3 linked regions of the Homo sapiens genome follow. The protein of the gene in region 1 interacts with the protein of each later gene in a pairwise test. Each region holds a gene or a part of one and is shown in the gene's direction. Other genes may lie near its edges. The genes, in order: DHRS7, SACM1L and TMEM120A.

Region 1 (10,729 bases):
AAGCCAACCCAGCAGCGAAAACCCCTTGCTTGTGAAAGCAAACCACCTGGGAATGGACTGCTTCAATGAACACACCACTGAGTGCCAATCTACTAAAGTCTCACTCAAGTAACTACAGTTCTTCAGCTGACATCAACCTACTCTGCCAGTCACCAAACTCCATGCTTCTGCAGAGCTGTATTAAGATCAGTTCCCTGATCTGCTTAGAGAGACTGGGCCTGGTCAGCATAGCTCTCCCTTATATACCTAAGCAATAAATTCAGCTTTATTTTTTGTTTATTGTGATGGTCTGAATTGTGTTCTCCTGAAATTAATATGTTGAAGTTTTAACTCCTAGTACCTCAGAATGAGACTGTATTTGGGGATGAGCTTGTTAAAGAGGTGGTTAAGGTAAAACGAGGTCATGTCAGTGGGCCCTGATCCAATATGATTGATGATGTCCTTATAAGAAGAGGAGATTAGGACACAGATGCACACAGAGAAAAGACTATGTGAAGACAGGAAGAAGACGACCATCTGCTATAGCAGGACGAGCCACAGACAAAACTCCTTAGATACCGGGTTAAAGAAGGAAGGAGCTTTATTCAGCTGGGAGCTTCTGCAGACTTGCATCTCAAAAGCCGAGCTCCCTGGGAGAGAAATTCCTGCCCCCTTTAAGGGCTTACAACTCTAAGGTGGTCTACGTGAAAGGGTTGTGATCGATTGAGCAAGCATGGGGTATGGGACTTGGGCTGCATGCACCGGTAATCAAGACAGAGCAGAACAGAACAGAACAGAAAATTTCACAATGCTTCTTCACACAATGCCTGGAATCTATGGATAATACAAGCAGTTAGGTCAGGGGTTGATTTTTAACTACCAGGCTGGAGGTGCTGCAGTGGGCTGTCTGACTATTGATCTTATTTTTGCCTTTCTGTAACTTTTGAATTCTCTTTCTTTTTCTGAGGTATGAGACAAGGAGAGGGGGTGGTCTTCAAGTCAAGGAGGGGGACCTCAGAGGAAACCAGCCCTGTCAGCACCTTGACCTTGAACTTCTAGACTCCAGCACTGTGAGAAAATAAATTTCTGTTGTTTAAGCCATCCAGTCTGTGATATTTTGTTATGGCGGCCCTAGAAAATTAATATATTAATGTTTATTTTGGATATTGAGGTCTCTAGACACTAGAAATCAACATCAAAATTCTTACCAAATGAAGGTAATGACCCTGGACTCTGCCTGAGCACTTCTGTCTCCAAGTAACAGGCCTCAGTGCTGTGCTTGGGCTCCTGGCCCACAGGTTAGTGGTTTTCACCTGGACCTCAGGTTGGTTGCAGAGGCAGGCCACATCCTTAGGGTAGGGGATTTACCTATGGGGGCACAAATACATTCCTTAACATTTCTCGTAAGCTAATTTTAGTGGGTCTCTGCCATTTGCGATTGAGAGTACCGACTGATTGAGACATTGGTACCCAGAAGTAGAGTGCTAGAAATGAAATATCCTAAAATGTGAACTACTGTGTCAAGGTGGAGTAGGAGGCAGTGAGGCTCTCTCCATCTCCCTCCATCCCTGGGTGGGAAGTGGGCAGTCTTTATGATATGGTAATGAAGCAGCTCATTAAGATGTTATTGTAGTTTCTTTGGGATTCAGACCTGTACATACTAAGGTAGAAGCTTCAGGGAATCCAGCAGAACAAAATTAGGCTGCTCTGGTGTGAGAGGCAGTATTATATGGTGGTTCAAGAGCAAAGACTGAAATTAGACTACCTAGGTTCAAAGACCCTGTCTCCTAGCTGTGTGACCTAGGGCAAGTTACTTAATCACAATTAAGCTTCCTCATCAGGGAAATGGGAATTAAAATAGTACCTAATTAACTGGATTATTGTGAAGATTAAGGGATTTAATATATATAAAGCACTTAGAATAGGCCTGGCAATTAGAAAGCATATGGACAGGTTAACTCTTGTTGTCTTGGTTACTTCTTGTGGCTCCTGTCAAGATCCTACTAGAAAGAGATAAGCCTTGGTCTTAGATAGCTGGGAACAGCATACGGCTTTGTTAAAAGAGATCACGCTCCTCACTGCTCTCATGCCCCATCTCAGCAGACAGCAATCCAAGACTGCTTAGGGTTCGGAATTACAAAACCAAATTCCCTGCTAAGGCTAAAGTTGATCTGAACAAAAGTAAGGGCAAGGCAAAGAGAATAGACATTAGACAGGGACCTGAAAGGATCCAGAAATGGGACTTTACATCCCACAGAGGAAACAGGTAAGGTGTTTCCATACAGTGACAGAGAATAGATCAGTGGCTGCCTAGGGAAGGGGTGGAGGATGGGTGGATTTCAAAGGGTCACCCCTTTTGGGGGTGATTGAAATGTTTACCTTGATTGTGGTGATGGTTTCACAGGTGTATATATTTGACAAACTCATCAAGTTGTATACCTTAAATATGTGCAGTTTCTTGTACTCGAATTATACTTTAGTAAAGGTATAAACAAGAGAGAGCAAGAGGTAGAAGCTGCAATAGCTTCTGTGACCTATCCTTGGGAGTCACACACTCATCATTTCTGCAGCATTCTGCTGGTTACAGTGATCAACCCTGATACAACCTGGGAGGGAAATACATGGTGGTTTGCACACAGGAGGTGAGCATTGTTGGATCCATCTGGGGGATTTCTGGCCATCCCTCTATGTGGAGAGAACAGTATGTACAAGGCCTTGAGGTGGGCTGGTATTCCAGAAAGCCTTAACTGATTAACTCTACTCACCTCTGCTGAAAAGTTGACTGTTACTTGGTGCAATGGTTTTTTTTTTTTTTTTTTTTTTTTTTTTGGTTTCTTTTGTTTGTTTGTTTTGTTTTTTTAAGACAGGGTCTTGCTCTGTTGCCCAGGCTGGAGTGCAGTGACACCATCAGTCTCGGCTCACTGCAACTTCTGCCTTCCAGGCAGTCTCAAGCAATCCTCCCACTTCAGCCTCGGTGCAATGTATGTTAACATATCATCTGTCACATCTTCCAAAATTTGAGTCCCAGGTTCTCCAAAACTTCAATGGGTTAGTTAGACTAACCACTTTCAATGCCTAAGTGTTCTAATATGTCAAGTTCTCCTCTGACCTTATGCTTTGGTTTATGAAGAGTGAAATTATGAGGAGTGTCAGCATGTTTGCAAGCCAATGGGATGGAGTATGATTTAAGAAGCAAGAAAGAATTTTGTTTTTCTTAAATCTGAGACCATAAATTTCTGTTCACTCTGCTTATCTCCAAGGCTGGTCCTGGCTGGAGAGGGGAGAAAAAAGAGAAGGAGAGGAAAAAGCATTGATCAGTTTTAGAATTTTAAGAAAATATTTGCATATTTTAAGAAATTTAACCTAATTTTTTTAACTTTTTACTTTAAAATGATTATAGATTCACAGGAAGTTGCAAAGATGGAACAGACGTGTACTCTGTACCCCGTTCTCCCCACTAGTAAATTTTACATAATTTTAGAACAATAACAGAACCAGGGAATTGGTATTGGCAAAATCCACAGACCTCGTTCAAATTTCACCAGCTTTGCATGTACTCATGTGTGCATGAGTGTTTGAAGTTCTAGATTAGAATAACAACCACCACTACTAAATCATGGACAAGATATATAAAGGGAAGTTTGAAACAGAGCATTTAAGGGAGAGAGAATGAGAGCTATAAACTGCTTATGTTTAAGAGACCCAAGATACTGTGGAAATTGGCTAATCTAAACAAAATATCAATGCACTGATATGGGGAACTGCATGTGGTGAACAGTGCAGTGAGATATTCCTATTGAGGGATCCCATGAGATTACTAAAGGTAAGAAAGTAAGTTATATTTTCTTATAAATAAGACTCTAGGTAAGACCTTGTCTGCCTGAAGAATATCAGAAAACTAGACCATGACCTGAACGCTTGTAGCTGGGGTACAGCCAGGCAGGTGTAAGCCAGAGCTTGTGGAGGGAGGCTGCTAATAGATTGCAGAGCTCCTCTCCACCGTGGCCAGGTTGCAGGATTTCTGAGTAAGGGTGCTGTGAGCTTTTGGGGCAGGGCAATTCTTTGTTGGGTATGTCTTTACATAGTGCCCAGATCGTTAGCACTCTGATGACACCCTGGCTAGCTGGCACTATGGCCACTGTTCATCCAACACATTTCCAAAAGCATCTAAGGGATGTGAAAACATCCTCAATCAAAAACCACAAACCCCTTATTGTTCTTGAGGAAGAATATTCCCTCCCTAGATTCCTCAGTCCCTGTTTCCACTCACAGTTTCCACTCACTCTTTTTTTCCCCCGCCTAGGGACTGCCGATCTTGGAGGATCTGGATTTTTAAAGTTATTTTTGTATAATGCTTTTGTTATGGAAGATGGCAATTGCTTACGCACAACTGCCTTCATCTTAGCTGACCTGAATGGGCCTTAGCTGCCATGAATGGGCCTTAGCTGCCATGAATGGGCCTGACCCCAGACCATCAAAAGTGACCATTACTAAAAGGAGGGAAGGCAGGGTACCATTCTATTACATCTGGAATTAAAAATGAAGGTTACCAGTTATAGAAAAGACTTTCGGACTTTATTCAAAGCATTTTAATAATACTTAGAGAAGATTGATTTATTAAATGCTAGCAACTCTCATTTTAACATTAACTTCCGAACTTCAAGGAGGTTTTAAAAAATTGAATTTTAATTTTTAATTTTTGTGGGTACACAGTAGGTGTATATATTTATGGAGTACATGAGATACTTTGATACAGGCATACAATGTGTAATAATCACATCATGGTAAATGGGGTATCCACCCCCTCAAGCATTTATCCTTTATGTTACAAACAATCCAATTATACTCTTCTGGTTGTTTTAAAACATACAACTAAATTATTATTGACTATAGGCACCCCATTGCACTATCAAATACTAGGTCTTATTCATTCTTTCTATTTTTTGTATCCGTTAACCATCTCCACGTCCCCCCCAACCCTCCCACTACTCTTCTCAGCCTCTGGTAACTATCCTTCTACTCTCTATCAAGGAGGTTTAAATTTCAAGGAAAGGAGAATTCAATCAACGTGGGCTTATTGCTTCTCATGTCAACACTAAGCTATGTATTCCAGACTCTTCAAAAGAAGCATCAGATTTGCTACTTTATTTCAAGGATTCTAAAGTTCCATTGGAACAATACTATATTAACCCTGAAAATAATTAAAAAACAATTTCAGATATAGTTCAGAAGTAATTGTGAAAAGAGGTGAGATTAGGGAAAGATGACTCTGAGTCCAGATAACCCCAAAAAGCTTTTTAGAGAAGGATGAGGGTGGGGAGGCAGGTAGGGGGTTTATAATAGGATTTAAAAAGAGAAGGAAGAGCTATTTAAGGAAATTTGATTACTGCAAGTAACATTCTTCAAAACATTTAAAGAAAAACAAAAGTTTGGCAGGCAAGACTAGAAAAAGAAAACAACACTGGGGAGGGAAGTCACTGCTTCTTTTATTTCCATGACTGTTTTAAAGTCATATTTAGTTTCAGCCAAGGAAGAGCCTTTGACATCAGAGCACACAAAGTACTCTAGGAAATGAAGAGGATGAAAGTTCTACTGCATCAACGCCCAGAACTTTCTCCATTTGGCCACAGGTCGTTCTCATACATGGCCTAGTTTCTATGCACTCTAACTGGGTCCCTCTGAGGCTTGTGAATGGAAAACCCTCTTGCTTTCAAATGCTTGAAAACAAGAAAGATGCTACTATTGATGCCTCAAATACATGTAGGTATTTAGTGGGAAGCAATTAAATGTTTTGAAGGTCATTTCAAACGGAAATTAATCAAAAACAGTATTTTACTCTTTTGTGTATTAGAGTAGGCAAGACCTTGGTGTTTTCATTACATTCTCTGTTTTTATTTGCTGTTTACATTAGGATGTGAATAATGGCTTGGGTAAGGGGAGGATTTGGTACCAACCTAGGCTTTGGTTGCCAAACAGACACCAGAGTAAATTTGTGTGTGGTCAGAATCAGGTTGTAAGGTGCCAACACAGCACATGGCTTCAGTCTTTTTTTCTCTAATTGTAAAAGGACCTTGTCCCCATGGAGGGACCATTGCCTTGGCTTGTGGGGTCTTGAGTGATAGCCACAGTCTTTCTTCAGCACTTTCTCGACCTCATGAAAAGATACTGAAGCTTGAAAAGGGGATGTTCTTTCTGAATAGGAATGGAGAAGAGGGGCCAAGCAAGAATGATTCTATCTGTCTCCTGGCCGTTGATAGTGTCCCTGTACAGAGAGGAAATAACGTAGTATAATATGTAGCTTATGTTTGAATCAGCTTCTTTAAAAATACTGGAATTTTATTTATTTATTTTTGGTAGACACAGGGTTTCCTCATGTTGCCCAGGCTGGTCTCGGACACTTGAATTCAAGCAATCTGCCGGCCCCGCCGGGTGTGCCGCATGAGGGCGCGGGCCGCCCAAGGACCGCGAGTGGGGCCGCGAGTGCTGAGCCCGGCGCGCCCGAGCCGCTCCTCCTCCCGGCCTGCTCCCTGGGCGGAGCCGGGGCAGTGCGGCTCTGGGCTGGCCGAAGGGGTGGCGCTGCGATCCCGCAGGGCAGCGACGCGACTCTGGTGCGGGCCGTCTTCTTCCCCCCGAGCTGGGCGTGCGCGGCCGCAATGAACTGGGAGCTGCTGCTGTGGCTGCTGGTGCTGTGCGCGCTGCTCCTGCTCTTGGTGCAGCTGCTGCGCTTCCTGAGGGCTGACGGCGACCTGACGCTACTATGGGCCGAGTGGCAGGGACGACGCCCAGGTGAGGACCGGCCAAAGCCTCTCCCGAGTGGGAGGCCGGGCTCGGAGCTGCCGAGGCGTGTCCGGGTCTCCGGGGGTTCTGCAGTGATCCCGGGTCCTTTGTGGGTTGCGTGGAGCTTCCCGAAGGCCCGGCTGCCCCTTACGCAGGGGCTGCGGGTTGGGGAGGAAGAGGCGAGGGCTAAAAAGCCCCTTTGTCTTCTGTACTGGTCGGAAGATGGCATGGACTTGCCATTCAGGCTAGGAAACCTCTCCAGGGAGTGCCAAACTGTTAAGAGAGCACTGGAGTCGGCGGTGCTCCTGAGGACTCTGACATCTTACGCAGGACTCAAGGGATTCTGGTGTTGTCTCAGAGGACGATACTTTGAGAAACAGTGAGCGTCCCCCTGCGTTTGTAAGGGAAACTCCTTTGTAAGTACCGGAAGCCCGGTCGTTCTACTACCTGAAGTAGTCTGTCCTCCACTTCCCACTCCTGCAGTTTTGAAATAAAATCTGAGATAATCCGAAGTCCTTCACCTACTTACTCATTCTAGTCAAACACTAGAAAGAACTAAAAATGGCAGTTTGCTGGAGCGAGATCATTATTGGCATACTGCCTATCTCACTTTATCTGTGTCTTGCTTAATATTTGACATCGTGTACATTTGCTGTATGTTGGCTCAGCGCTTTACACACATAACATTTAACTTTTACAACAACTCTTACAAGGTAGGCATTATTAATCTTATTTTCCAGATAGGGAAACTGATGTTCAGAGAAATTAAATGACCTACCGAAAGCTAGGCTTTGGATCCTTAAGGACTTGGGGAAATGGGGTTTCCCTGGACCAAGTTTCTGGTATAAAAATACTCAAAGCATGTTACAAAGTTTGCTTGGAAGAGATAGTAGCTCGAAAGATAGACTATGTTTGGGGGGGGCGTTATGGGTTGGGCGTTGAGGGGGGTGATATTGATCCCAAGGTGAGAATTGGTTCCTGTGGACAAAAAAAAAAAAAAAAAAAAATCTGGTAATACAGTGGTTTGTGCCCCTCCAAAGCTTAACCCCACCCGAGAAAATATTATTCCTTAGTATTTCATTTTTCTGGTTGGGTTTTCTTGGGTATAGCATGTGCAGCACTGACATTGAGTTCACGAAAAATACACAACATGGACGCCACAGCAGTGCTACAAAACTATGGCAAGTGATTGGGCTTTCTCCTTTTAAAGCAGGAATCCCAAATACTGCACAACTTCATTAACCAAGGGCTTTCTCTTGATCGATTGTTCCACCTCAGCGGGGGAATATGTGTGCCTATTGGCTGCCATTGGCTGCCTTGCAGACGTTGTTTGTGTTTGATCTTTAGTGCTTTTGTGTTCACTTGGACTTGGAGAATTAAACGAAAATAGATTATATTTTATTATTTAATCCTACAAAAAATATTCAACCCATCAAATTATGTCAAGTGCTAAAAAGCAAAATTATTGACAACATCTGAATGAATATCTCTAAGCTACTAAGTTAAAAGTTATTTTCTCATATTAAGGAAAAGTTAAAAGTTAAGATCATTGAAAATTTTAAGAAATTCATTTAATATTTTCAGTTGTGTTTTGTCGGAAAAGAACAGTTTGAAGGATTTTAAATTTAATTACATTGTTATCATTATGTAGTTATATAATTTGCAAATTTGCACATGTAGTTTGATAAATTGCTATTTATCTAAGTAAGTTACATAAAAGTTATTCAGCAAAAATCTGGCGTGGTGGCATGTACCTGCAATCCCAACTACTCTGGAGGCTAAGGTAGGAGGGTCATTTGAGCCCAGGAGTTCAAGACCAGCCTGGGCAGCATAGTGAGACACTGTCTCAAAAACCATAAAAATGTTTTTCAGCAAATACAGTTATAAAGTTAGAAGTTAATAACTTTTAAATTTTAATTTAACATTTAACTTAATTTTAAAATTTAGTCATATGCTTATTTAGTCATATGCTTATTAACTAAGGAGTAAGCTTTTTTTCTTTTTCTTTTTTTTTTTGAGACAGAGTCTCGCTCTGTTGGCCAGGCTGGAGTGCAGTGGTATGATCTTGGCTCACTGCAACCTCTATCTCCTGGGTTCAAGTGATTCTCCTGCTTCAGCCTCCCTAGTAGCTGGGATTACAGGTGCGTGCCACCACGCATGGGTAAGTTTTGTATTTTTAGTAGACCTGGGGTTTCGCCATGTTGGCCAGGCTAGTCTCAAACCCCTGACCTCAGGTGATCCACCCCGCTCTGCCTCCCAAAGTGTTGGGATTACAGGCATTAGCCACTGCGCCTGGCAGGAGTAAACTTTATAGAACTCCTTTTATGTATAAAGCACAGATATATGTACAGTACATAAATGATATACAGTATATCTGTGGAATTAACATTTCACAGGAGAGTTTTAGGGGAAAAAAAAGTCTAAAAAGACTCCTGGTGGAGGTAGGGAGTGAGAAAGAAGAAAAGATTAAAGGAAAATTGAAATAGACTCAGATTCCCAAAACAGCTCAGACTGGAGAGATGGGCAGACTCTATCAAGATGAAAAAAGAAAAAAAAATCCTTCTTGACTTCTCTGTAGGTTTATTATTTTTTGTCACTTAAAAAAATAGCACACTCACATAATACAAAAGTAAAAATACAAAAAGATATATAGTAAAAAGTAAAGAGCTTTCTCTGACCCTTGTGCCCTAGCTACCTAGTGTGCTTCTCTCGAGGCAGCCACCATTTCCTGCCTCCTCTGTATCCGTCTAGAGAAATTCTGTGCATTTCCAAGCATATATCTCACATGGTGATTTTTTTTTTTTTTTAATAGAGAGACAAGGTCTTGCTTTGTCACCCAGCCTGGAGTGCAGTGGCATGATCATAGCTCACTGCAGCCTCGAACTCCTGGGCTCAGGCAATCCTCCCACCTCAGCCTCCCCAGTAGCTAGGACTACAGGTGCAAACCACCACACCTGGATATTTTTAAACTTTTTGTAGAAACAGGCTCTCACTATGTTCCAGGCTGGTCTTGAACTCCTGGCCTCAAGTGATCCTTCCACCTTGGCCTCTCAAAGTGCTAGGATAACAGATGTGAACTGCCAAGCCCAGCCACATATGGTGAAATTTAAGGGTGACTAATTTTAGACATTAAAATGGTCCAGAAAAATCCATGGCACAAGTCTAGAGGAGGAAAAATTTCAACAGCAGCACATGTGAGCAAAACTCAGGTTTTTGTTAACAGTAACCTCAATAGGAGTCAACTGTGAAGTGGCTGCCAGAAAAGATCAGGCAACCTTGGGTTGCATTTGTAGACCTCAGTGTCTGAAGCAACAACTGCAAACAACAGATGTCTCCTGACTAGCTGCTTGTATGTGCCGGCCTCTGTGCTGGGGCACTGGGGACACTGCAGTGACTGAATCAGCCACAGTCCAGGCCCTCATAGACCCTACCTTCTGGGGGACAAGGGAAGTGATTTTTGACATCTCATCCTGCTCTGCACTGTCCAGACCCTACCGAATCCTGTGTCCTGCCCTAGCCAGCTCCCTTTAATAAAGAGGAACATTAACCAACTAGAATTGGTGCAGGTGGGTGTGAGCAGAAGAGTGAGGAAACCTGATACCATGTCATGTGAGGGAAGGTGGCAGAAATTGGATAGGTTTATTTAGCCTTAGAGAAGGTAAGAGATGAAAGGACTTAGGGAAGACATAATGGCTGTCTTCCCTAACAGCTGTGAGGGATTGTCATTTAGAAGACAGGTTTCATTTCTTTTCTTTTCTTCCTGAAACAGCTTTTTGTAAAACAAGAAAGCAGAATTGCAACACAATTTAAATGTCTGTCTAGGTCACAAAAGGGATGCAAAATGTTTGTAATATGATTAGTATGTATTCATATAGTGAGTCATTCTTACACCTATACATAAGATTATTCCATGATTAAAGGTAGCCCAGCTCTAATAACCATAAGCTATATTAGTGGATCCCTTTTCCTATTA
Region 2 (10,033 bases), on another chromosome or scaffold:
TACTCTATGCGTGCCAGTCTTTACCGATTTTAAAGCCAGAAGAAGGAATCTGTAAATCGTACTACCATTTTCTTCTGCCTGTGTGTGATGGTTCTAAACCTGGCAATCCAAATGCACTTTTTAATTTGTTACACAATAATATAGTAAAACCTCTTGGATAGACATTTGCTCAGTTTTCAAAAATATCTTTTTATATACATTAGGTAATCAACTACAGTTATTTAAATCTGCTTTTTTTCTGTGACGTTTTGCCATGAACACAGAAGGGAAATTGACCTCCTGTTGTTGGGCAATTAGAGAAAACATTGGCTGGCCCTGGCATGTTGTTGGAGGAGGTAGTTCCTTGGGTTCACCCATTAACTGCTGCCGTACAAGAGTGTAAGAAAGAAGGAGAGTTGACTCCAGAGTTTGTGTTCGTTGCTGTTCACTGTGGTCCACAGGGAGAGCAGAGCTTTCACTGGTGACTTTCAGATGATCTCTCGAGACTTTTTTCTAAGGGTTTTGGGGGTAGTGGGAAGAATCTGGGCTTTGGGATCCAACACACCTTGGTTTGAATTTAAGTTTTTCTCTTAGTAGTAATATGACCCAGGGCCACTTAGTTATCTTCAGACTTCGGTTTCTTCATTTGTAAAGTGAAGATGATAACTTACTGTATAGTTTAAGCGATAATGTTTATAACATATCTAGGATTTTATAAGTATTCATGGGGTACGGACACACACACCCTTGCACACACATATATATGTACACCAACTCTAAACGAACCTTACCAATTCTGCATGATCCATATGTAGATTTTTCATCCTAACACATTCTTCCACGCTTTTGTTCCTGAGGTCATGATTTGTATTTAGCCCTTGATGAATCTGTTGCATTTTCTTCCTCCTTTTGGATTTTGGAGAATAGTTTCAATAGTTAACATTATCCAGTATTCGTTGTTTGCTGTGTTCCATACACTGTGCTAAGTACTTTATGTGCATTATGTGTTATCTCATTCAAACCTTAGAGAAGCCTAATGGTGGTGCTGCTGTTACCTCCATTTTGTGGATGAAAAAGCTTACTATTTAAAGTTCTAGAGTTAGTAAGTTGCGTATGATGCTAAGGCTAGCAAACAGATAGTTTGCTTCCTGCATCCATATTCTTAACCACCACACTGTGTGTTGTCAGATTTTTGAATTCATAGAATTATCAAGGAGCTTGTTAAAGAAAACATGGGAACTGGTAACTGTGGTTGGTTGCAGTGCAGACATCTGGATGTTTAAGGGGAGGAAGGGAAACTGATTTTTCAAATAATACCCAATTGTTCTTTATAAATCTTGTACTATTTGCATGTATTACCCATTTAAGAATTTTTTTTTTTTTTTTTGGCTGGGGGCTGTGGCTCACGCCTGTAATCCCAGCACTTTGGGAAGCCAAGGCAGACGGATCACCTGAGGTCAGGAGTTCAAGACCAGCTTGGCCAACATGTCAAAACCCTATCTGTACTAAAAATACAAAAATTAGCCAGGCATGGTGGTGGGTGCCTGTAATCACAGCTACTCAGGAGGCCGAGGCAGGAGAATCACTTGAACCTGGGAGGCAGAGGTTGGAGTGAGCTGAGATCATGCCACTGTGCTTCAGTCTGGGTGACGGAGGGAGATTCCATCTCAAAAAAAAAAGAAAAAGAAAAAAAATATTTTTAAGTATTTAAAAAAAATTTTTTTTAATTTAGATACAGGATATCGCTCTGTCACCCAGGCTGGAGTGCAGTGGTGTGATCATAGTTCACTGCAACCTTTAACCCTTGAGCTCAAGTGATCCTCCCACTTTAGCCTTCTGACTACAGGTAGGCACCACCATGCCTGGCTACGTTTTTGTTCTTTTAGAGGCAGGGACTCGTTATGTTGTCCAGGCTGGTCTCGAACTTCTGAGCTCAAGTAATCCTTCCACCTCAGCCTCCCAAGTAGCTGGGATTACAGGCACGCACCACCACGCCCAGCTAAAAGTATTTTTAATGCAAAATATTCAATCCTTGCCTCAGAGATTCTGATTCAGTTGATCTCAAGGCCAGGAATCTTTTTTCACAAGCAACCCAGAGGATTCTAAAGATAGTATATGAATCATAAAGCCCTGACATCTAGGGATATAGTTGGAATAATTATGTTAGAGGAAACCCTCATCTGGCTTTGGGAAACATGATTGATTTGCACAGCAACCTTTTTAATACTCTTAACTTTACTTTTTCACATCTTTGGGGTGAGATGATCTCTAATCTTCAGCCATTTTTTGGATGGAGGGCTGTCTTGCCTCAGCCATTTAGACTTCTTTTTGGTCTAGGATAATCACATATGCCTGACCACACATTCCTGTCTGACCTTTTAATTTACAGTTTTTAATAATGTCACTGAAATGAGACCCATGTTATAAGAGTTAAGTCCTTAGTAAATCTGACCTACTTTGGTATGAGAGTGTTTATACAAATATGTTTTAGTTATTTTCTAGTGGACTCTGCTGGCCAGGTGGTGGCAAACCAGGAAGGCGTGTTCCGAAGCAATTGCATGGATTGTCTAGATAGAACCAATGTGATCCAGAGTTTGTTAGCTCGTCGTTCACTTCAGGCCCAACTTCAGGTGCGAATGCTTTTTTTTTTTTTAATTGAAAAACAACACAGCAAAAAATTAAACATCTTTAAAACCCAGTAACAAAAAATATTCACATTGCCCACACCCTAACCCAGCTCTTTTTATTTTTGTGTCTTGCCCATGGATGTCACATTTTCCATAACTAGGGTCAGTCTGTGTATGCACAGTTTTCACTTTTGCCATTTTCCCTTAGCATTTATGTAATCACAGTTTCTGGTGGTTGTATTGTTGTGCCGTAATTTACTAAGCCATTCAGATTGCTACATTTTTGGTTTATAAATAACACCGTAGAGAATATATCTGTATATGTTATTATTAACTTGAATTATTTCCTTCATGTTAATTCCTAGAAGTGGAATTACTGGGTTAAAGAGAATAAATATATTATTTTCCAAGAGCGTCATACCAGTTTACACTGACACCAATAATGAATCAGTAAATCCATTTCATTGAACTCTTCCCAGCATTTGATATTTTAATTTTTTTTTTGTTTTTCCTTGAGAAAGTGTCTGGCTCTGTTGCCCAGGCTGGAGTGCAGTGGTGCAGTCTCGGCTTGCTGCAACCTCTGCCTCCTGGGCTCAAGCCATCCTACTAACTCAGCCTCCCACAAAGCTGGGGCTACAGGCATGTGCCACCACACCTGGCTAATTTTTGTATTTTTTTTTGTAGAGACAGGATTTCACCATGTTGCCCAGGTTGGTCTCAAACCCCTGGGCTCAAGCAGTCTACCTGCCTCAGCTCCCAAAGTGCTGGGATTACAGGCTTGAGCCACTGTGTCTAGCCTCTTTTTTTTCTATTTCGTTAATACAAAAGTAGCACCTCAAGATTGTTTCTATTTATCTCTCTCTTATTACTAGCAAGGAATATTGACTCCAAAGTAAAAAGTTTCTGACACAGCTTTGCTTTACCACTAGACTATGCTGTTGAGAAAAATGGTTTTTTTCTTCTGTGTATATTTGGAATGAAAAAGATGTAGAGCCCCAATTTTTAAATCACATTGGCATTTGTTGTGAGGGGCAGACAAAATGCATACCACATGGTTTCCTGTTCAGGTAATTAGTAAGCATTCAGCTTTATTTCTGACAATTGTATGATACCGAGAAAGAAATTATGGAGGTAAAATACCCCCTTCAGAATGAATTGTTCTTGAATCTTAAAGTCACACCTGCCAGAGGAGTGCTGTCCCTGTTGGAGTAGTCTGTAGTTTGTATTGTGCTATGTCCTCGTCTGTTGGAAGGTCTTCTAAGTGTAGTTTTTAATAGAAACAATATTAGGAATGGTTTGGTTCCATGGCTGATTAACCAAAACTTACTTGACTAGGCTCTGCAATCCATATTTTACAATTTTACATGCTATATATAGTATTATGAAACCTAACCAACCTGCAGAGAGTGGGGGCAGGAGCCTCTCCAGCAGCTTTGCCTACTAGTGTAGGGGCTGTCTACTTGTGCCTCTCCAAGTCTGCCAGTGAAGGCAGAGTTCTTACCCAGCTAAAGGTCACCAAGGTGGCTCCTGTGCTGTGTCTGAGGGTGGGAATGACTCCTTCTGAGGTGGAGATGAGGTGTCATCTGAGGTAAGCAATGAAGATGGTGGTTCTCAGAAGTGATGGTCTGAGACAAGGCAGGGACTTGTCATCTGTGGTTGGTGGTCTCCAAAGGGGAGTCTATAGAGGGGATTCAGGGGGCCCAGCAACCCTGGGATATTCTATGTCTGTGTGTGTGCACTTTTGGGGAGGTAGATTAGGTGGCACTCATCAGATTCTTAAAGGTCCCTGGGACAGAGGGTAAGGCTGGGGTGACTCAGGGGTGAAGAAGTTGAGGGATGATGCATGTGAGGGGGTCTCAAGGGGTAGAGGCAGTAGAAGACTGGGGGTAAGAGGGAGGGAGGAAGTAGCGGCTGGAATCCTATAGCAGCTTTCACTCTCTCTTCTGACCCTCTCCCTGAGTATAGTCCTGCTGCTATCCCTCAAGGGAGTGCGGGGGCTGCAAGGCAAAGGTGCCCTCAGGAGAGGCTTTGCAGTCTGCCCTGGGCAGGAGAGGGCTGCTGTGAGCTGGGGCCCCCTATAGACAACAGACATTTCTGGCCTGCATCCAGCAACCAGGCACCATGAGATAAAATTTGGGGACTGCTTTTTCTTCCTAAACCATGTCTGCTAAAATCTATTACACATAAATCTGGGTGTGGTTTTTTATTCCAGAGACTAGGAGTTTTGCATGTGGGACAAAAGCTTGAAGAACAAGATGAATTTGAGAAGATTTACAAAAATGGTAGGTCATTTCTTTAATATAGACAAAGTTGGTCAGATTTTGAAATAAATTAATATTCTGGATTTAGAACTTTGTTTGTCATCTTAATAATTATCAGCTGTTTTTACTTTTTTCTACAGCCTGGGCTGACAACGCAAATGCTTGTGCCAAGCAATATGCGGGAACTGGTGCCTTGAAGACTGACTTTACCAGGCAAGCCATGCTTTTAAAATAGCATTCCACATCAGTAGTTCACAGTCCTGGTGCTTTTAAAAATCACCTGGGCAGCTTTCAGACAGCAGCAGCAACAACAGCAAGACTCCAGCATCTGGGCCTCACTTGAGACCTGTGGAGTCAGGATTTCTGGGAAGTGAGGCCCGGGTACTGGTGTGTTCTTAGCCACCCTGGGAGATTCTGATGCTTGGGGAGGGTTGAGAGCCACCGCTCCACAGTGCTCCTCAGACCTTACCGTGTACCTGAAGCACCAGTCTTGAGATGTGCTCTAAAAAGCACCCAGGTGATGCTGATGCTGCTTTCAAAGACTGCACTGAGTAATGAGGACATTAATGAGAACATTTTGAATGTATTATGCATGCAGTGGCTCTTTTTCTGCTATGTGGGTTCCCTGGGAGCAGAATAAGATTTCTAGTCTGTTTGCTTTGCTGTGTCCTACCACTTAACCTGGGCTATGTATTTCTCTTCATATTTCTTGTCTTTGCAACTGGAATTAGTGTGTTTCTTTGTGCCTCCTTTGGTAATATTTTAGAAAGAAAATAGGTATTTCTTGGACCTACAAGTGATTTCTTTTGTGAAGTATCTGTATTTTCAGGGATAGTTTTTAAAATCTGTCACTCACTTATTTCTATACCTTATGCTTATTGGCCATAAAACAGTGTGAGAATTCAGTGTACAAACCTGTAACTTAAAATTTAACCTCTTTAACCAGAACTGGAAAGAGAACTCATTTGGGACTTATAATGGATGGCTGGAACTCAATGATACGATATTATAAGAACAACTTTTCCGATGGATTTAGACAAGTAAGTTTGTATTTGATGCTTTCCTGGCATTACGTGGTTGTATCTTTGCATTGTTCATCACTAATGTTATCTCACACTGAGTTTACGAATTTCTTCCTTTCTGTTCTAGGATTCCATAGACTTATTTCTTGGAAACTATTCAGTGGATGAATTAGAATCTCATAGTCCTTTAAGTGTTCCAAGGGACTGGAAATTCCTGGCTGTAAGAAACCATTTTGTATTTTTCAAGTTTTTAAAAGCATTGTGTCTGAAGGTATAGATGGTTTCAGTCTCAATTTAAAACGTTATATGTGGTTTTATATTTCATTACATGAAATATAAATACTTAAGTTTTCCAAAGAGGTCAGGCTGAGGAGTACAGTAACTGTGGAGCATTTGTTTTCTTTTCCTCAGACTCTCACACATCCTTTTCATGTGAAGTAACATAAGCAAAGGGAATGTGGAAGCTTTCTCATTTCAGGAAAACTTCAATTCTCTTACATTGAGGGAATTGCCAGAGACAAACGTGTTACATGGAAGGCAAAGTTTATTTTTGATGCTTCTCTCCTTTTTGACTCCTCTGTTCACCAGACCCTGCAAGAGCCGCTCTGGATTTTCTTTCCAGTGTGTCAAGTGCTCTGGAATGGAAGGGAGGCCTAGTGTTCTAGGTCCTCATCTGGGCATCCTCCTTCCATTTAGCACCCTTTGGCTTGGAGCAAAAGCATGCTTCTTCCGATCTTACCACATCCCCCATCTAAAGTCTAGGGCAGTTGTGATTGAACCCATAAATAATAATGTTTTGTTGACAAAAGATATTAGCTGTGTATTAGCTGACAGATGAGTTTTATTCTTTTCCCAAGCAATGCATGCACAACTGATTTTGCTGCCATTGATTAGCATTCTTAAATGATGATCTCTTTCTATTGTCTTTTCCAGTTGCCTATTATCATGGTTGTTGCCTTTTCAATGTGCATTATCTGTTTGCTTATGGCTGGTAAGTCTGCTCCACACATTTGTTTCTTAGTTAGAATGTTGACCTTTCTTTTACAACATCTTAAGTTTTTGAGTTCACCGAACACTTGATGTTTCCCTATTAAATTTAATGGGTAAAGTGGATGTGACATTAGATTGTCATTAGATGTGACAGGAAGAAAAATAACATACCTAGTAGTTTGATGGTTGTCGTTTTTTTTAACCTCAGATTTTAAAAACATGTTTTTCTTATTACTGTAAACCAATGAGTGTCTGAGACAGGTCTCAGTCAGTTTAGAGGCTTAATTTGCCAAGGTTGAGGACCTGCCCAGGAAAAAGAGACACAAGATACAGTAGGATCAGTATCTTGTGCTTTTTCCAAAGAGGGTTTTAAGGACTTCAGTATTAAATGGGGAAAGAGTGTACAGGAGAGGAAGGAGGAATGGAAACAAAAGGGGAGGGTAGGTAGTAAGATAAGTGGTCACATTCTTGTGAGGCTTTGATTAGCACTCACTGAATCCATGTTACATGTGAAAGGACGGGGTAGAGGAACAGTCAATTATGCATTCATCTCCTGCTCAGTAAATCTGCATTTTATGTAAGACAAAGTAAACATAGAGTAGATAAAGAAGTCAGATCTGCATTTGTTTTGGGGTGGGCGGAGGGATGATTTTCTAGTCTTGTCTTTGTCCCATACCTGTGAAAATAAACTGTTAATTTACATTGTCAGGGTGAGGGAGATTCAACAGGACTGTCTTTTAGGGTAAAGATTTTGGGGCCCACAAGGAATTTGCTTGTGACAGTTTGTGAGGGTGGCCATCTGTGAGGATATGTGGCCCACTATCTTTGCAGCTGTCTACTTAGGAACAAAAGGAGGGTAGTTTTGTGAGACTCAGTTCCCAAGTTTAACTTTTTCCTTTGGCATAGTAAATTTGGAGTCCTGAGATTTTATTTTCCTTTCACATTACCAAAGTAATACATAGTAATTATAGAAAGCACACGTAGGCAGAAAAGGAGAAAATATTATTTATCATCATACCTTTGAGAGAGAAGCTAACCACTCTTAACATTTTGATGTTTTAATCTTTATAAGTGTCTGTGATTTTTTTTCAAAAGTGAGATACGTATTTTCATTATCTGCTTTTTTTCACTGAGCAGTATGTTTTCCCATGTTCTTAATTGCTAATGGCTGCAAAGTATTCCATTTATGGATGTATAGTTTAACCAACTCAAATAAATGTTAATGGATTAAGATATTACTTATCATTACATTTTAAAGGTTGAGAGTAAAATTGCCTGAGAACCTGAGGAGACAAGGTCTTTACTGGTTTTCTTTTTTCTCTTAATATTTTGCTATGTTACTGAGTTAATAAAGCATTTAAGATTAAAGTGAGAAGAATGTATTCTTTATTCTCCTTTGAGTAATGTCCTGTAATTTGGAGGTTTGAGTCTGAGACTTGGTGTATTGGACGTTGGAGATGCAATCCTAGTCACTCTGAAAGAAGAGGCACCTTCCAGCCTTCATCCTCTATCCTGAATTCGTTGAGCCAACCTCTCTCTGCCTGTCTGAATTCCACCATCCTCAGGGCACCATTCATATGCTCCCCTCTCACAGAGTGTCTCTCCCACACAGAAGTCTTCACCTTCTGTCTGGATTTCCACAGCACTCCTGGTCCTCTCTCCCAGCACTTTCCTCTTTTAACCTCATTAATACATAGGGAGTTATTTTTCAGAGGTGGTATACCTCTTTGGTGTACCTGACATACCCAGTGTGTATTTCTTTTTGGATGGTAATGATTTGCATACTTGTTTGTTTTTTTCACTGGATCAGCAACTTTTTGAAGGTAAAGACTGTGTCTTACTCATTGTTTTATCTCCTTTGTCCAGGATATAGTGAGCCCTCAGTAAATGTTTGCTGAATTAAGGACTCACTCCACCACCACCACTAATTCTGTCACCTTTTTGATAGGGAGGCTCAGTTACCTGTTCATCTCTGTATTCCCCTCAGTGCTCAGCCCTGTAGACAGTCGTGACATAGTTTTAACTAAATGCTGAAATGTTGAGTAGGGGGAAAGAAAGAGCCATCTTATTATTATTATAGTTAGCAAAATTTTTCTGTAAAGAGCCAGGTAGTAAATATTTTTGTCTTTATGGATGGCTGTACATTCTTTGTTTTTGTGTTTATAACCATTTAAAAATGTAAAAAGCATTCTTACCTTACAATACAAAAACAGGTTGAAGCACAGGTATTGCCTGGGACATGACTGCAGGTTTTAGGGCAGGAAGGAAGAGGCAGCATGTGCCGGTTCCTCAGCGGCCAGCCCTGCTTTCATTTCCTCTCTGGGTCCTCTGCCTTCTTTCCTGAAAACACTGCCCAGCGCATGCCATTTTTGGGGAGCCACTCTACTGTTAAATTAGTTCATTTTGTTGTTGTGACTATACCCACATTTACTTAAAGAACCTCTGGAGAGGCAGGAAAGTCAAGACCAAGAACTCTGCTTGAATGAAACGGATGATTCCTTTAGGGAGTGTCCAGCAGAGTGGCTAACAAGGAACTGCCCTTCTTCTTTTGTCCAAGAAGAATTTTAAACTTCAGAGCCATGAAAATGAGCAATTATGCAAATTCGAGTATATTTTGAGTAAAAAGAGATTGGATGCTGTGGATGGTAACTTCTCATGTCAGTTTATTCTTATGATAAACTTTGTGATGTTTGGTTATGGTAATATCTGATTTCTAGCTCCTGCTGTGGTTTTCAAAGAGAATAGAAAACAAATGTAGCATGATCTCTGAGGGCTTGTTAGGAAGGAGTCTGGATGCTAGTTTCTTCCGTGGTGTGCTCACTGGCTGTCATTCCCTGTATGTATTTCTCCTTCTGCAAATGAGGCCAGTAGTGTTGCAGAGAGAGAAGCTATTCTCTAGGTTCAGCTATTCAAGGAGTAAAACAAAGTAGATCTTTGCCCACCGGCTTGCTGCTAACCTTTATGAACTTCGGACTTTGGAAAATGCATATCAGCAGAGTTGGGTTAAATATGTCATTAAAATAGGTTATTGGCTGGGTGCTGTGGTGTGTGCCTATAGTCCCAGCTACTCAGGAGGCTGAAGTGGGAGGATCACTTGAGCCCAGGAGTTCTGGTCTGTAGTGTGTTATGCTGATCGGATGTCCGCACTAAGTTC
Region 3 (9,862 bases), on another chromosome or scaffold:
CCCCGTGGGAACCACCATTCTACTTTTTGTCTCTGTGAATTTGACTACTCTAGGTACCTTATATAAGTTCCTTCCTTTTAAGGCTGAATAATATTCCATTATATGTGTGGAATTCACCAATAAACCCATCTAGGCTGGGTGCTTTCTGTTTTGGAAGGTTACTAATTATTGATTCAATTTATTATTGTTATTTTATTTATTTATTTTTTTTTGAGACGGAGTCTCGCTCTGTCACCCAGGCTGGAGTACAGTAGCACAATCTCGACTCACTGCAAGCTCTGCCTCCCGGGCTCATGCCATTCTTCTGCCTCAGCCTCCCGAGTAACTGGGACTACAGGCATCTGCCACCACTCAATTTCTTTAATATATGTAGGCCTATTCAGATTGTCTGTTTCTTCTTGTGTGAGTTTTGGCAGTCTGTGTCTTTCAAGGAATTGATCAATCACATTTGTGGATATGAATATTCTTCTATTATCCTTTTAATGTCTGTGGGATCTGTAGCAATGTCTTCTCTTTCACTTCTGTATTAGTAATTTGTGTCTTCTGTTTAAGTTAGCCTGGCTAGCGGTGTATCGATTTTATTGATCTTTTCAAAGAACCGGCTTTTGGTTTTTTTGATTTTCTCTATTGATTTCCTGTTTTCAATTTCATTCTTTGCATGGCGTATCTAGTTTTCCTAGCACCATTTGTTGAAATGACTGTCCTTTTCCCCCATCGAATGGTCTTGGCATACTATCAAAAATTCCTTGACAGGCCCGGTGCAGTGGCTCACACCTGTAATCCCAGCAGGTTGGGAGGCAGAGGTGGGCAGATCACCTGAGGTCAGGAGTTTGAGACCAGCCTGGCTGACATGGCAAAACCTCGTCTCTGCTAAAAATACAAAAATGAGCCAGGCGTGGTGGCACATGCCTGTAATCCCAGTTACTTGGGAGGCTGAGGCACAAGGATCACTTGAACCCAGGAGGCGGAGGTTGCAGTAAGCTGAGATTGCACAATTGCACTCCAGCCTGGGCAACAGAGTGAGACTCAGTCTCAAAAAAAAAAAAAATTGCTTGACCATATAGGTAAGGGTTTATTTCTAGGCTAGGCTGGCTATTCTATTCCACTAGTCTCTTTGTCTTCATGTCCATACCATACTGTTTTGATTACTGTAGTTTTGTTAGACTAAGGTTTGAAATCAGGAAGTGTGAGACCTACAACTTTGTTCTTCTTAAATATTTTTTATGGGGTCCTTTGAGATTCCATATGAATTTTAGGATGGATTTTTCTATTTCTACAAAAAATGTTGTTGGGATTTTGATAGGGATTGCCTTAAACCTGTGGATTACTTTGAGTTGTATTGGCATCTTAATAATATTAAGCTTTCCAACCCATGAACACAGGATGTCTTTTCATTTGTTTGTACCTTTAATTTCTTTCAGCACTGTTTTGGAGTTTTCAGTGTACAAGTCTTTTGCCTCCTTGGTTAAATATTTTATTCTTTTTGATGCTACTGTAAATGGAATTGTTTTCTTAATTTCCTTTTTGAATTGTTTAGTATATAGACATGCAACTAATTTTTGCATGTTGGTTTTGTATCCTGCATCCTTGCTGAATTTATTAGCTGTGTGTGTGTGTTGTGTGTGTGTGTAATCTTTAGGGTTTTCTACATATGAAATCATGTCATCTTCAAACCAGAGGTAAGGTTACTTCTTCCTATCCATTGTAGATGCCTTTTATTTCTTTTTCTTGCCTCATTGTTCTGGCTAGGACTTCTAGGACTATGTTGAACAGAAGTGATGAAAGCAAGCACCCTTGCCTTGTTCCCGATCTTAGAGGAAAAACTTTATCTTTCGCCATTGAGTGTGATGTTAGCTGTGGGCTTCTCATATATGGCCTTTATCAGGTTGACATCACTTCCTTCCTTTTTTGTTTTTGAGACAGAGTCTTGCTCTGTCACCCAGGCTGGAGTGCAGTGGTGCAATCTCGGCTCACTGCAACCTCCGCCTCCCAGGTTCAAGCAATTTTCCTGCCTCAGCCACCCAAGTAGCTGGGATTACAGGCATGTGCCACCATACTTGGCTAATTTTTGCATTTTTTTAGTAGAGACAGGGTTTCGCCACATTGGCCAGGCTAGTCTCGAACTCCTGACCTCAGGTGATCCACCCGTCTCGGCCCCCCAAAGTGCCAGGATTACAGGCATGAGCCACTGTGCCTGGCCATTTCCTTCTGTTCCTAGTTTTAGGCACCACTCTTGCCTTTCCCTTTTTCGTTTGTCCTCAATCCAGATGGAGACCAGGTGCTCACCCTCCTTCATGCAGCAACACTTCCTGTACTTTAAGGTGGATGCCTGAAGGAGGGCAGCTTGAATTTTCTTCTTCAGAGAATTTGCCCACAGTTCTCTTCCTCTTTCCATTAATTTGTCCAGTCACAATGCAAACCTTTGTTGAGACTGCACTAGGCTTGGCATAGTGTTTGCCATCCACAGGTGGTTTCATGTATATTGTCTTAATCTTCCCAGAAGCTGTTTGAAATAGGAATTATTTCTGTCACCAGATTTAGAAGCAGAGGGGCTTGCCCAAGGCAGAGTCAGCTCCCATGACTCCCAGCACTGATGCATTCATGCCAGGCTGCCCTGTTTCTGCATCCAGCCCTTAAGCCGTGTTGCTGGCACTGTGCAAGTGCCTCCTGTCTCTGAAAGCTGCCTCTGATCCAAGTGGAAAGGGCCCAGGACCAATCGTGAAGTTCACTTTCTCTCTTTGTATTCATAGAGGTCCTGGGCCTATGTCAAGAAGTGCAAAAACAACATGTGTCCAAATCGGGGATTGGTGAGCCAGCTGCTGGAATGGGAGAAGACTATCCTTGGAGATTCCATCACAAACATCATGGATCCGCTCTACTGATCTTCTCCGAGGCCCACCGAAGGGTACTGAAGAGCCTCACCTGGGGGCATTTTGTGGGTGGAGGGCCAGAGTGTGTATACCCAGGCTTGTCTGGAAGGAGAAGGCCTTTGCTGCCTGAAAGTCTCATGTTAGCCTCCTGTACTGATTCTTCCCAAGTGCCTGTTCACGCCACCTAGCTGATGCGCCCTGCTCAGGTTCACCAAGAACCCGCATCCCTGAGGTGTCGCGGGCCATCCCAACTGCACCCCTGAGGCTGCCTCTGGAAGAGCATCTGGCTGCTAGAGCAGCTGCCCTGCATCCCCCTGGTGACTTAGACCCTTTGGAGGCTGCCTGGGGGTACCCAGAGGTTGCCTGTGTTGGTTCACAGAGGATGTCACAATAGCCACCAATAGGCAGTCCCCTAGTCCCAGAGATACCAAGCCCAGCCTTGTCTAGCCCCCAGGCTCCTAGAATGGGATCACACCCTTGCCTCATCCCCAGCGCTTCCTGCCATCCACCCCTTGAAACAGATTTTCTTTCCCTGCTCCCCACTCATTTCTGCCTGGCTGTGTTCACCAAGGAGAGATTCTCACCCCCTCCCCCATCTCCCTATCCACGTTTCTAGAAATTCCTAAGGTCTTAAAAGTTTTCCTTTTTTTTACCCCCTTTCCTTTTTTTTGGAGGCACGGTCTTGCTGTGTCTCTCAGGCTGGAGTGCAGTGGCGCAATCATGGCTCACTGCAGCCTCAACTTCCCTGGGCTCAAGCGATCCTCCCACCTCAACCTCCTGAGTGAGTAGCTGGGAATGCAGGCATGCACCATCACACCTGGCTAATTTATTTTTATTTTTGTAGAAACAGGGTCTTGCTCTGTTGCCTAGGCTGGTCTCGAACTTCTGGGCTCAAGTGATCCTCCAGCCTCGGCCTCCCCAAAATGCTGGGATTACAGGTGTGGGCCACGGCACCCAGTTGGAAGTTGTTTTCCAAATGCACTTCTCCAAAGCTGGCAGCACCCACAGAACAAACTGGGCATCAGGAGACGGCACAGACTAGGGGACTGGTAGGGGATTAGGATGTCCATCCATGCAGGACCTTCCCCAAGTCCATTCGGCAACCATTCCCTGCCACCGCGTGGGTGGGGCTGGGAACAGAGAGATGAATGCCGTCCCACCACTTAGCGCGCTCTGTGGAGGGATGGGGGTGGGAGGGGGTGGGGGATTCCCCTCAACAGAAGGGCAGGCCTTCAAGGAGGAGTGGGGTTTTGCCAGAGGGGGAACGGCTTTACACACAGCCCTGGCTTTCCTCAGGGTGTGAGTTGGGACAGAGCCCGGGATGGCTGCAGAGCTCCGATTAGGGACCTCCTGGTAGGCAGGACACAGCCGCTGGAAAGTTTTAAGCATGAACATGATGGGGAATCAGCCTTGTGTTTTGGGAAGGGCAGTCCGGTGGCCGCGAGAAGGGACAGTGGAGGTGAGGCAGGGAGAAAGGAGGCCGCTGTAAAAATCCAAGCGAGAGAAGCAGCTCTAACTCCCTTCCCCAAAGAGGCTCAGCTTCCCAAGGACGAAAATGTTGCAAGCAGGTGTCACCTCCCTGCACCTTGGTTTGCTCTCAGCATGACGGGCCAGAGCCCTGCTGGCTGCACCACGCGGCTGGCACAGTCAGTGCAGTCCAGGCCCGGGGGCTGCAGCCGTCCCAGTCCCGGTCCAGGCCGCGAGTCCCGGGGCTAGCAACCGCCCTTGCATACGGCCCCGCCCATACCCCGCCCCTGTCCCGGATTGGCTGGGGTGGGGGGCGTGGCCTTTCCCCATTGGTGCCCGTGGCGGCGCGAGCCCGGAAGCGGACGGGGGCGGTGGCGGAGGAGCCTCGGGTGGGCCGGGGTTGCTGCGCCGTCCTCCACTACTGGCTACTGGCGCTGCAGCCATGCAGCCCCCGCCCCCGGGCCCGCTGGGCGACTGCCTGCGGGACTGGGAGGATCTACAGCAGGACTTCCAGAACATCCAGGTTAGCGCCGCTGCGGACGCCGGGTCGCCCCCGAGCCGCGTCTCGCTGGCTCAGGGTCAAGGGTCGGGCAGCCCTGGGTCAGGCAGTGGGGAGCTAAGGGTCAGGGGTCGGGGCCCTGGCGTCACTGCCAAGGGGGGCGAGGCCCCTGGTCCTGGTGTCCACTGCCACCACCTCCAGTGTCCGGGAACCCCGGCGGGACCCCATCGCGCTGGGCGACCTCGGCTTCCAATGAGGGCCTTGGAAAGGGGCCCAGACCCCGACCCCGTCCCTTCCCAGAAGAGAGCGGCCGCCTGAGTCACACACGGGCGGGCCCAGCCTTGGGTCAGCCACTCAGCAAACGCGCAGCGGGCAGCGCCCGAGAGGCAGCCCAGGTCGGGGGAGCAGCGTTTAGGGGGGTGTCCTCGGCCTGGATGGGGGACGCCCCAGGCAGAGGGATACCGCGCGCCGCCGAGGCCTTTGGAAGGAAAGAGGGGACTTGACAGGCCCATGTGGCTGCATCAAGGAGAACCAGGGGAGGGGTGGGACGGGTGGGAGGGGTGGGCGGGGCTAGGCCCTGCAGGGACGCTCTGGCCTGGCAGAGATCAGAGTCCCTCCGAGGCCAGTGGAAAGCTACGGGAGGAATTGTCTGGACTGAGCTCCCCAGGGCCACCGTGGCTGTTCTGTCCAGAGGCCAGGGAGGAGGAGGCTGTTGGCCTCATCCAGGCAGGGAAGAGGGCGGTGGCTGTGGGTGGGCAGAAGTGGCACGTGCTGGGGTCCGAGGGGGCGTGGTGACCCCTCCTGGGCATGAGAAACAAGATCCAGACAGAGTAGAGCCCTGGCCAGCTGATGGCTTGGTTAGCCCTTGGCCTCTCCTGGACTGGTTCCAACTGCTTCCTGTGGGCATTGAAACCCAGCTGCCCCTGGCCCTGCCAAGGCCCCTGCCATTGGTGCTTCTCCCCAGAGACTGAGCAGACCCAGTCTCCCCGCCTGGCCGCCGCTGTCCTGGCCACAGCCCCTGCTTGGCTCTCCTCACACTGCCCCTTGCCCCATCTCTAGGCTGCGCCTTCTTGAGACTCACCTACCAGGGCAAAGTGCTTGGGGAATCCTTGGGCCAAAGGTGCTAGGGGAAGGGAGTGGGGCTGGCCTTAGAGCAGGAGGCTCTAGGGTTGAAACCTGATGACCTTTAACCTGGGAAGAAGATGTCAGGGATTCCTGAGAACCTGAGCTCCTCCTGTACTGGAAGGCTAGATAGGCAGGAGGAGCTGAGAGGATAGAGGGGTGGCTCTGGGCTGCCTGCTTGGTCCAGGAGGTGGCCCTGGGGGCCTAAGCTCCAGACTCAAGGTAGGAGAAAGAGTCTGTCCTTGTAGGGTGGGGACAACTAGCAGATGGGCTGAGACTAAGAAAACCTTGGCTGGGTGCGGTGGCTTATGCCTGTAATCCCAGCACTTTGGGAGGCCGAGGCAGGCAGATCACCTGAGGTCAGGAGTTCAAGACCAGCCTGGCCAACATGGTGAAACCCTGTCTCTACAAAAATACAAAAATTAGCCAGGCATGATGGCAGGTGCCTGTAATCCTAGCTACTTGGGAGGCTGAGGCAGAAGAATGGTTTGAACCCGGGAGGCGGAGGTTGGAGTGAGCTGAGATCCTGCCATTGCACTTCAGCCTGGGCAACAGAACAAGACTGTCTCAAAACAAAAACAAAAACAAAAACACCTAGTCTGTTTTTGGAGGAGGGGTGCTGTGGGGGTCTCTGGGCTCACAGGAGGACACCCAGGTCCTTGCCTGCCTTGGGGAGACAGCCACCTCATCCCTGGGCAGGCACAGTTCTACCTCCTTTCCCGCTGAGCGAAACCCTCCCAGCAGCCCTGGGGGAGCCTGAGCGCCACGTCCTGCCTGCAGGCTCTGGCTCAGTAGCTCCCCAACTGGCCTGAGCCTCTCCCCTCCGGCCCCCAGGAGACCCATCGGCTCTACCGCCTGAAGCTGGAGGAGCTGACCAAACTTCAGAACAATTGCACCAGCTCCATCACGCGGCAGAAGAAGCGGCTCCAGGAGCTGGCCCTCGCCCTGAAGAAGTTAGGATCCCCTACCCCACCCGCCATGGGCAGAGTGTGGGGTGGGAGGGCTGGCGCTGTGAGACCCTGGGCACCGCCCCTCCCCTCTCTGGGCCCTGTTTGCCCTTCTGCCCCTGTGGGAGTCAGGGAGGACACTTGGGAGTCCTCTTGCCCTGACTGTTTCTGGCCTTACCCGCAGATGCAAACCCTCCCTCCCAGCAGAGGCCGAGGGGGCCGCACAGGAGCTGGAGAACCAGATGAAAGAGCGCCAAGGCCTCTTCTTTGACATGGAGGCCTATTTGCCTAAGAAGAATGGGTGAGGGCCCCCACCGCCACCCCCAGCTCAGTTCACAGCCACTCCTGAAGCCGGGTGCTGCCTCCTCTTGGTCATTATAGTCAGCAAATGTTCCCTGGGCCCAGTACAGGCTGAGCAATGAGGCACAGTGCTGACTTCAGGGGAGACACCTGGCTGAGAGTGACATTTCACTGTGATAGGTGCTTTGTAGCATGGGGAATGAGGTGGCACAGTGAGGGACACCTGACCCAGTCCAGGAGGTCGCAGAAGGCTTCCTGGATTAGGGGATGGGTGGGCTGAGTCTTACAGAATAAAGAGTGGGCCGGGCGTGGTGGCTCTCACCTGTAATCTCAGCACTCTGGGAGATGGAGGTGGGAGGATCACTTGAACTCAGGAGTTCAAGACCAGCCTGGGTGACATACTGAGACCCTATGTCTCTATTTATTTAAAAAGAACAAATAGGCTGGGCGCGGTGGCTCATGCCTGTAATCCCAGCACTTTTTTGGGAAGCCAAGGCAGATCGCTTGAGGTCGGGAGTTCAAGACCCGCCTGGGCAACATGGTAAAACCCATCTCTACTAAAAATACAAAAATTAGCCGGGCATTGTGGCATGCACCTGTAATCCCAGCTACTTGGGAGGCTGAGACAGGAGAATCACTTGAACCCGGGAGGCGGAGGCTGCAGTGAGCTGAGATCGCACCACCGGACTGTAGCCTGGGCAACAGAGTGAGACTCTGTCTTAAAAAATAAATAAGTAAATAAATAAAAAAAATGAGGCAGACACATGGGCTGAGGGCGAGAGGTAGCAGCAGGTGGACGGGCCATGAGAACTTGTAGTGGCCAGAGGTCGGGGCGGGAGGTGAGAGGCAGCCAAGAGATCAGAGGCTTTGCTGGGCTGCAGCTCTTGCCTTGAGCCCAGTAGGCGGGCGGGGGCGGTGGAATGTGCACCTGGAAAGGCCAGCAGCTGTCACCCAGGAGGACGGATGGGGCAGTGCAAAACCCCCTGCTGAGCAAAAAATCCCAGCAGAGGCTGCAGGCAGGGAGATAGCTGGGAGAGGGCGTGGCCCAGAAGGCAGGGAGAAGAAAGGAGTGTCCGTAGCCTGGGGTCAGTCCTGTGATAAGGAAGGGGATGCGCTTCCTGGAAGTTGGGTCATCTTGGCAGAACCATTTGGTGGAAGGGGATGGATGTCGATCTTGGGGATGACAGAAGAGCCAAGGAAGGGAGACAGCCAAGTCTAGGAGACTTTTTTTTTTTTTTTTTTTTTTTGAGACAGAGTCTCACTCTGTCGCTAGGCTGGAGTGCAGTCACTTGATCTCGGCTCACTGCAACCTCTGTCTCCGTGGTTCAAGCGATTCTCCTGCCTCAGCCTCCGGAGTAGCTGGGATTACAGGTGCCCGCCACCACACCCGGCTAATTTTTGTATTTTTGTATTTTGTATTTTTAGTAGAGATGGGGTTTCACCATGTTGGTCAGGCTGGTCTCGATCTTCTGACCTCATGATCCACCCGCCTCGGCCTCCCAAAGTGCTGGGATTACAGGTGTGAGCCACCGCACCCAGCCCTCTGGGAGACTTTTTAGAGCTTGGCTGTGAGTGGAGGGAGAGAATTAGCAACTAGGAACTGGAAATTAGCACTGGGTTGAGGGGCAGCTACTGCCTGTTTGTGGGGTTACTTTGCCTCTGGGAAGACTCGAGCACATCCACCTGCTGAGAAGAGGGGCCGAGAGGGGAAAGACCCAGGAGAAGGGCAGGAGGTGATGGAGGGAAGCCTGGGGAGAGCGAGAAGGGCTAGTGGGGGATGGAGGGTGCAGAGATGAGAGTGAGGAGTGCTCCCGGCACAGTGCTCCTGGCATAGTGCTCCCCATAGAGCAGGAGTCAGGCTGTCTTCTCTGCAGTGTTGCAGGTGGGGCCCGAGGTGGGAGGAGACAGGGTAGAGGGTTTCGGGGAGAGGATGTGGAGAGGCGAGTGCTGGGAACCAGATGGCGAGCTGAGTGGGGACACATCCGCAGCCTGGTGGGTTGGCAGTGGAGGCTGAAGCTGGCCTGCTTGGGGAGCACTGTGCCGGGAGCATTCTGTAGAGGGAGAAGCATGGCTGTCCCAGAAGTTCTTTGTGGCCTTGGGGCAAATTGCCTAACCATGCTGAGCCTCTGTCTGTTTGGCTTGAGTGTGAACAAGAGCCCATGTGTCTGGGGCAGGTGCTGAGAAAGTGACCGTGACTTTGCTGTCACCTCTTGGAGTATCTCTGGCAGAGAAGGGCAAGATGATCTCAGTTGGTGGGTGTGGAGGCTGGACATGAAGGGGATTGGCAAAAAAGTGGTGTAATTGGCGGGTGGCCTGGGGACTCAGCCAGCTCTGATGAGATCTGGGACTGGAGAGCGTGGGGGCCTCGGTGAGGGACAAGGGGGGTCGTGGTGGGAAGAAACGCCCCGGGAGGCTGAGTACTTGGGGTCAGCCCACAGTCAGAGCTCTGAGTTTCTGTTCTGGTTTGGGAGGTCGTCCTAGATGTGGCCAGGCGTGTGGGTCTCTGAAGTGGAACCTAGTACTGCAGGTTCTGGAGGGGAGGTGGCAGGGAGCTGGGGGGTAGGTGGTGGCCATCGCACAGGGGAGCAATCGGGGACAGGGGGACGGCCCTCAGCAGGGAGGGAGAGCCGGGTTCTCTTGGTGCCCTGAGGTGGGGG

Evidence for each region.
Region 2: the proteins of DHRS7 (region 1) and SACM1L interact in binary tests that used the Homo sapiens proteins (3 or more experiments, as listed by UniProt).
Region 3: the proteins of DHRS7 (region 1) and TMEM120A interact in binary tests that used the Homo sapiens proteins (3 or more experiments, as listed by UniProt).

What each region holds. Positions count from the first base shown.
Region 1 is NC_000014.9:60,161,213-60,171,941, reverse strand, and holds the start of DHRS7 (dehydrogenase/reductase SDR family member 7 isoform 1 precursor), read left to right. Parts: upstream 1-6,543; 5' UTR 6,544-6,632; coding exon 6,633-6,765; intron 6,766-10,729. UniProt on the Homo sapiens protein: NADPH-dependent oxidoreductase which catalyzes the reduction of a variety of compounds bearing carbonyl groups including steroids, retinoids and xenobiotics.
Region 2 is NC_000003.12:45,732,765-45,742,797, forward strand, and holds part of SACM1L (phosphatidylinositol-3-phosphatase SAC1), read left to right. Parts: intron 1-2,470; coding exon 2,471-2,609; intron 2,610-4,818; coding exon 4,819-4,888; intron 4,889-5,007; coding exon 5,008-5,080; intron 5,081-5,813; coding exon 5,814-5,907; intron 5,908-6,016; coding exon 6,017-6,109; intron 6,110-6,822; coding exon 6,823-6,880; intron 6,881-10,033.
Region 3 is NC_000007.14:75,989,488-75,999,349, reverse strand, and holds the start of TMEM120A (transmembrane protein 120A), read left to right. Parts: upstream 1-4,754; 5' UTR 4,755-4,779; coding exon 4,780-4,860; intron 4,861-6,792; coding exon 6,793-6,911; intron 6,912-7,089; coding exon 7,090-7,206; intron 7,207-9,862. Other genes in the region: STYXL1 (serine/threonine/tyrosine-interacting-like protein 1), read left to right, coding at 2,751-2,882. UniProt on the Homo sapiens protein: Multifunctional protein involved in mechanosensation, and plays an essential role in lipid metabolism and adipocyte differentiation. May function as a potential ion channel involved in sensing mechanical stimuli.